2 linked regions of the Homo sapiens genome follow. The protein of the gene in region 2 binds, or shares a complex with, the protein of the main gene of each other region. Each region holds a gene or a part of one and is shown on either strand. Other genes may lie near its edges.

Region 1 (3,409 bases), about 40 Mb from region 2:
TGCCAGGAACTCATTAAGCTGCCTGGGCCTGTAGTCTCGTGCTCCTCCCGCTCGGCCAGCAGTGCCACCTGGGAGTCTTGTTACCTGCAGGTTCTCACTCAGCAAGCCAGGACAGGGCCCGAGCACTTGCATTTCTAACCAACTCCTGATGATGCAGCTGGTCTACCAGCCACCAGCTGGCTAGCAAGGGTCCAGTCACAGTTTCAGTGAAAGGAAGTTCCATTCATAAACTATAGAATTTCAGATGCCTTCAAGTAGAATCACCTGATGAAATTTAAAAATTATTTCCAAGCTCACCCTAACCCGGAAATAAAGATTATCATCCCAACTAATTTCAGGAAGGGAGGGGCCAGTTTTAACATTTCCATTTCAAATATTAGAGCCCGGTCTGTGGCTCATGTGTGTAATCCCAGCACTTTGAGAGGCTGAGGCGGGAGGACTGCTTGAAGTCAGGAGTTTAAGACCAGCCTGGTCAACAGAGGGAGACCCTGTCTTTAAAAACATTTAAAAAATTAAAAATTGGGCAGCTGTGGTGCTGTGTGCCTATAAAGCTACAGGTAATTACTTTAAATATTTCAACAGATAACTTAAATACTTTAATAATTTAAATATTTAAACAGATAATTATCTGTTTTAGTTTGTCAACATTGTGGTAAGTCATGATCCTGCCACTATACTCCTGCCTGGGCGACAGGGAGATCCTGGGCTCTCAAAAAAACAACAAAAAAAAAAAATTAGAAAAATGAGGCCAGGCATGGTGGCTCACACCTGTTATCCCAGCACTTTGTAAGGCCAAGATGGGAGAATCACTTAAACCCATGAGTGACAGACCAGCCTAGGCCACAAAGTGAGACCCTGTCTCTACAAAAAATTTAAATATTAGCCAGATGTGCTGGCATGCACCTGTAGTCCCAGCTACTCAGGAGGGTGAGGTGAGAGGATCGCTTGAGCCCAGGAGGTTGTGGCTGCAATGAGTTGTGATGGTGCCACTGCTCTTCAGCCTGGGCAGCAGAGCAAAACTCATCAACGATGAAACTCTTTCCAAAAAAAAAGATTAGAAAAGTGAGTGAAATGGGCCGGGTGCAGTGGCTCACGCCTGTAATCCCAGCACTTTGGGAGGCCGAGGTGGGTGGATCACGAGGTCAGGAGATCGAGACCATCTTGGCTAACACGGTGAAACCCCGTCTCTACTGAAAATACAAAAAAATTAGCCTGGCATGGTGGCGGCCGCCTGTACTCCCAGCTACGTGGGAGGCTGAGGTAGGAGAATGGCATGAACCCAGGAAGTGGAGCTTGCGGTGAGAGGAGATCACGCCACTGCGCTCCTGCCTGGGCAACAGAGGGAGACTGTCTCAAAAAAAAAAAAGAAAAAGAAAAGAAAAAAAGAAAAGTGAGTGAAATGACCCAAGACTACACAGTAAGTTACTAGAGAAGGTGGTGGCACCTTAGAAGTATAGAGTTTATGGGAAAAGTTTTAAATTTTTAATGAAAAAGACTTAGAACAATGTATTATTTACATGTAAATAAGAAAAGAGAGCAGAATCCCCATATCCTCTTCAAAGGAAGGGAGACGGCAGGCCATTTATGAGAAGAAAGTCCATATAAACCCCATTAAGTAGAATCTGGATCTAAATACTTCCAAACAGGAGTACACAGCAGGTGAACAGTCTCCCTCATCCCACTGATCTGCTGCTTCAGATAAGATCAGCAACTGAAAGTGAAGAAAGAAACAGATTAAGGAACAACACAAACAAAATGAAAATTTGTTAACGTAAATTTAACTAAAACCTCACAACAGACTTCTCAAAACAAAAAACAGGCCAGACATAGTGGCTCACGCCTGTAATCCCAGCACTTTGGGAGGCTGAGGTGGGCAGATCATTTGAGGCCAGGAGTTCGAGACCAGCCTGGCCAACATGGTGAAACCCCGTCTCTACTAAAAATACAAAAATTAGCTGGCTATGGTGCACGTGTCTGTAATTCCAGCTACTCAGGAGGCTGAGGCAGGAGAATTGCTTGAACCCAGGAGGCAGAGGTTGCAGTGAGCCGAAATCGCGCCACTGCACTCCAGCCTGGGTGACAGAGCGAAACTTCGTCTCAAAAACAAAACAAAAAAACCCACAACAACAAAAAAACAAACTCAGGTGCCCCAAACTAAGAATAGGGAAGTTCCCTCTACAATTACAGTAGAGCTGGACGATTTCCTACCGTTCATCGGCATCTCATCAATCTGAGTGGAATAGTACTGCTCGATATCTCTGAGGATGCGGATGTCGTCATTCTTTACAAAGTTAATGGCCACACCCTTCCGGCCGTATCGACCTGATCTCCCAATTCTTCAGGAATAAAATAATATTACAGTTAGTATATATAACAATCAAGATTTAGTAAATGTGTCACAGAAGTGAAGCCAATGAGAGCTTGCACCTTACCTGTGTATGTACAATTCTCTGTTATTAGGGAGATCATAGTTAATGATGAGGGACACCTGAGGGACATCCAACCCCCTGGCCCAGACATCTGTAGAAATAAGCACTCGGCTGCAAAAAGAAAGAGTGTTTGAGGCGATTAAATTACTCATACAAGTGTAAGACTGGACTTGCTTCCATTGCTAATTTTAAGGAATCCTGGCTGCAGGTCCAAAATATACGAGATTCTCCTCTCTCAACAGTCTGTCTGCAAACGTGAAGCCTCAGGGACAGCACCAGAAACCCCTGTGCAGAGGGGCTGTTGGTGGATTTAGTTACTTCGGTCATGTGCTCCATCAGATTAAAAAAATAGACATCTTTTACTAGACTATCTTTAACTTGTTTAATCGGTCCTAAACCAATAATTGGGAAAAATACTTCACTTTTGCCTAGCAAAAAATTAAAAACGGTAACTTCAGCCGGGCATGGCGGCGGCTTATGCCTGTAATCCCAGCACTGCCAGAGGCTGAGGCAGATGGATCACCTGAGGTCAGGAGTTCGAGACCAGCCTGGCCAACATGGTGAAACCCCATCTCTACTAAAAATGAAAAAAAAAAAAAAAAATTAGCCATTCCAGCTACTCGGGAGGCTGAGACACAGGAGTCACTTGAAATCAGGAGGCAGAGGTTGCAGTGAGCCAAGATTGTGCCACTGCACTCCGGCCTGGGTAACGAAGTGAGACTGTCTCAAAAACAAACAAACAAAAAAAGACACACACAGCACATATGTTAAGCTGACCACAAGGTGGGCAAAGAAGGAAGTCTGAATCAAGTTCAAATGAATGAAACCACCCAATCCACGCTTTCTGACCACTGTGGAATTAAACTAATCGAAACGATGAACAGAAAACCCCCCTACTTACTGGAAAAGAAGACACACGCTTGTAACCAAGGTGACCAACCTGGCTAGTTAAGGCTAGTTATCACCTCAACCTAAGTATT
Region 2 (3,749 bases):
AAGATAGGAATTTTGTTATAGTGTTCACTATTCCATCCTCAAGGGCTTAACAGATTCTAAAATGTAGTAACAGTTCTAAAAATGTATAGACAAAATCTTTGATCCACCATCCAATTCCCCCTATATATAATCCCATTACCAGAACTCAGGAGTCCACTCAACAACCCAGGAAACAAACACTTACTCTGATGGCATCTCTAGTAGTTTATCCAAAAGACAGGAAACTTTCTCCTAAAAACAGAAAAATCCCCACCTATAAAATGATGGATGCTCTTGGCACAAAACATTCCGAATCCTACCCTTTCAAAGTCTTCAGATAGATTTGGAAAAAAATAACCAATTGGCTGGCTTCTCAACCTACACTGCATAAAACAAACTGTCAAACATCTTTCAGAGGACTTCAAGATATCCTCACTCTCTTATTTAGAACCTCATATTCTTCAGACAGGAAGAGAAGCCAACTAACAGTATAACACCTGTGGCTTGAGACGGCGTGCCCCAAGTTTTCCCTAGGTCTAAAGTGAACAAGACCTTCTGTAACACTTTTTCAGAAGCATAAATGAAGAATACACAAGAGGATAAACACGGAGGTCATGGTACGTTTGCAACGAAGGTGTGTACACGTTTTTAAAAAGCATTTCTGATCTATACCATAGGAAAAAACCTGTCATACTCACTTCCGAGTCTTCTGCACTTTCATAATCCGAGAGAACAGCTGAAATAAAACAGAAATATGTGGAAAAAAAGAAACCCAGAAACATTTTTTGGCTGCTTATTACAGGTCAGACTAAGAGTCTCATTTAATTCTGACATCAACCTACAACGTGGATAAAATTATAGTCCCCACTTACAAAAGGAGAAACAGGCTCAGAGGGTAACTTGCTGAAGACTATACTGCTAAAGCCTATGCTCTTAACCACTATGTTACAAAAAGGCACTCTGTGGCCCTAAATCCGTGACAGTGTGTGAGAATGTCGATGTTGGAAATAGATGACCTGAGTTTATGTTAAAAAAAACTCTTGTCCTAATGGGGTAAAAGATGCTACTCACCATCACCTTCAATGCCATCTTCACTCTCCTGAAAGAAAGCAGAAGACATGGGTTAGTTCTGTGATTTCCAGAGGTGGGGAGCCCAATAAAGAAATGTGGGTGAAAAGCTGAAGATTCAGCACAAAATGGTTGGAGAGGGAGACAGAGATAGGTAAATCTTTATCAAGTAGTAGCCAAGGCAGGTCTGGTCTCCTTCCCTCCAGCCCCGACTTCTGAATAAAACATCCGCTTTCCATCTCCAGCGGCTCTACCATCCTCCCAGAAACCCCCAATCCTTCTTCTTCCCTTGGAACTCCGGATGCAAACTCGCATTGGGATAACTCCCCTTTTCTCTCAAAAACAAAAAAAAGTCCCAGTATCTACTATCAACTCACAGACTACCTAGCATCACCTACACCCCGCCCCCGGCCGGCTCGCCGCCCGGTCCCCACCCCGCCCCGCCTGCGCGCACTCACACACTCCGACTCCTCAGCACTCTTGGCGCCCCCGCTCTCCACCCGCCGCAGATGAAGGGCCCCGGTTCGGCCTCCGCGCTGTGAAGGCAGAGAGCCGCTGCCGCCGCCTCCGGCGCTACCGCTGCAGCTCCCGCCTCCCCGCAACGGGGAGCCGCCGCTGTCGGAGCCCGAAGCACCAGATTCCTCGTCCTCGGTGTCTTGCGAAGCGCGCTGCCGCCGCCGGTCCGCCATCTTACGGAGAACGGCCACCACCGGCGAGGTACTTACGCACCGCGCCCGTCGCAGAGGCTGCTGGGAGGCTGGATAGCTAGTCCCGGCGTGCTACGCGTGCGGCGCTCGGCCATCCCGCTGTGTGTGTGTGTGTGTGTGTGTGTGTGTGTGTGTGTGTGTGTGTGTGTGTGTGTGTTGGGGTGTGTGTGTGTGTGTTGGGGTGTGTGTGTGTGTGTGTGTGTGTGTGTGTGTTGGGGGAGGGGCGGGGCACTGGGCGGGGCCTAGGCCTGCGGCACGTTTGCGGCCGACCCGGATTACGTCTATCGGTGATGTAAGGGGGCGTGGCGCGGCTCCTGACTTCCCTTGGGCAGGCCTAGGGCGAGGGGAATTGAGACTTCAGCAGCCTCCCGGGTTCCTGGCCCGGCCATCTTGGGCTTCCCGAGTGGAAGGAGTCAACCTGTCACAGCTTCACTGCAACACTAGGGCTGTTTCATGGTTTTCTGTTTCCATTTCTCACTTCTACCTACGTTTGAAGCAGGTCAATTTACTGCATTCCTTTGCTTGGTAAAATCACGAATCAAGGTAAATCTTAAAAGCTGTAGTGCTGCGTCAGATTTGCTGCACCAGCCTTGTTTAAGATAACGGGCGAAGGAGAAACCAGTTGTCTGCAGTGAAGCCAGAGGACTTCTTGTTGCAGCGTTTTCTCTGTGTTCTCATTTCCTCTTCACGTTTCTTCCCACCCCAGCCATCACCTGTCCCAAAGTGCAGGCTGGTATGATGCCAGTATTACCGGTTTTGTTTTGGCTTTTTCGAGGCAGGGTCTCACTCTGTTGCCCAGGCTGGAGTGCAGTAGCGCGGCTCACTGCAGCCTTGACCTCCCAGGCACAGGTGACCTCCTTGCCTTAGCTTCCTTAGTAGTTGGGACAACGGGCACACACTACCACACCCGGCTAATTTTTCTGTTTTTTGTAGAGATGGGGTCTCGCTCTTGCCCAGGCTTGTCTCCTGGCTGGGATCAAGCGATCCTTTCGTCTCAGCCTCCCAAAGTGCTGGGACTACAGGCATGAGCTACTGCCCTTGTCAGGATTTTAGAACCTATTTAAAAATAAATGGTCAGTAGAAACAGATGTTGATTCAAAATCCTGACATTATTTCCTTCTTAAGGTTTATGGAAATTATTTCATTTTGGCAAGGCATTGGCCACCATTGAAAAGAATCAGTGTGTTTTCTTTGGACCATTATAAGGATATACAAAGTGCATGAGCTAAGTTTTTAGTGCACCTACAGGAGTGCACGTTAATAATGTATGTTATCAAACAAAGGCCACCATGGCATAGAATTCTTCCCTGAGTAAAATATTTTTTTTTTTTTTGAGAGGGAGTCTCACTCTGTCTGTCGCCCAGGCTGGGGTGCAGTGGGGTGATCTCGGCCCACTGAAAGCTCCGTCTCCCGGGTTCACGCCATTCTCCTGCCTCAGCCTCCCGAGTAGCTGGGACTACAGGTGTCTGCCGCCAGGCCCGACTAACTTTTTATGTTTTTAGTAGAGATGAGGTTTCACCGTGTTAGCCAGGATGGTCTCGATCTCCTGACCTCGTGATCCGCCGTTCTTGGCCTCCCAAAGTGCTGGGATTACAGGCGTGAGCCACCGCGCCCGGCCTTTCCTGAGTAAAATTTTTATAAATGACATGGTTAAGGATCCTGATGTTTATCAAATTTATAGATAACATGAAACTGGAAGTAATTATGAATGCCTTCAGAGATGAAAGGAAAATTCAAGGCCGGGCGCGGTGGCTCACGCCTGTAATCCTAGCACTTTGGGAGGCCGAGGCGGGCAGATCACGAGGTCAGGAGATCAAGACCATCCTGGCTAACACGGTGAAACCCCGTCTCTACTAAAAATAAAAAAAAATAGACGGGCGTGGTGGCAGGCGCCTGTAGTCCCAGCTATTCGGGAGGCTGAGGCAGAATGGCGTGAACCCGGTAGGCGGAGCTTGCAGTGAGCCGAGATCGCGCCACTGCACTCCAGCCTGGGAG

Evidence for each region. Proteins that work in one complex are often made in the same cells at the same time.
Region 1: the proteins of CASC3 (region 2) and EIF4A3 are in contact, whole or in part, in a crystal structure (PDB 2J0U), measured with the Homo sapiens proteins. Residues at the interface, in NP_031385.2 of Homo sapiens: Arg217, Trp218, Glu219, His220, Asp221, Lys222, Phe223, Glu225; in NP_055555.1 of Homo sapiens: Thr178, Arg179, Lys198, Ile201, Tyr202, Tyr205, Arg206, Tyr207, Leu208, Pro209, Pro210, Thr212, Lys231, Phe232.

The regions. Positions count from the first base shown.
Region 1 is NC_000017.11:80,133,796-80,137,204, forward strand, and holds the end of EIF4A3 (eukaryotic initiation factor 4A-III), read right to left. Parts: intron 2,541-3,409; coding exon 2,433-2,540; intron 2,337-2,432; coding exon 2,209-2,336; intron 1,712-2,208; coding exon 1,695-1,711; 3' UTR 574-1,694; downstream 1-573. UniProt on the Homo sapiens protein: ATP-dependent RNA helicase. Involved in pre-mRNA splicing as component of the spliceosome. Core component of the splicing-dependent multiprotein exon junction complex (EJC) deposited at splice junctions on mRNAs.
Region 2 is NC_000017.11:40,138,536-40,142,284, reverse strand, and holds the start of CASC3 (protein CASC3), read right to left. Parts: upstream 1,749-3,749; 5' UTR 1,737-1,748; coding exon 1,506-1,736; intron 1,079-1,505; coding exon 1,051-1,078; intron 716-1,050; coding exon 678-715; intron 232-677; exon of another isoform or gene 185-231; intron 1-184. UniProt on the Homo sapiens protein: Required for pre-mRNA splicing as component of the spliceosome. Core component of the splicing-dependent multiprotein exon junction complex (EJC) deposited at splice junctions on mRNAs.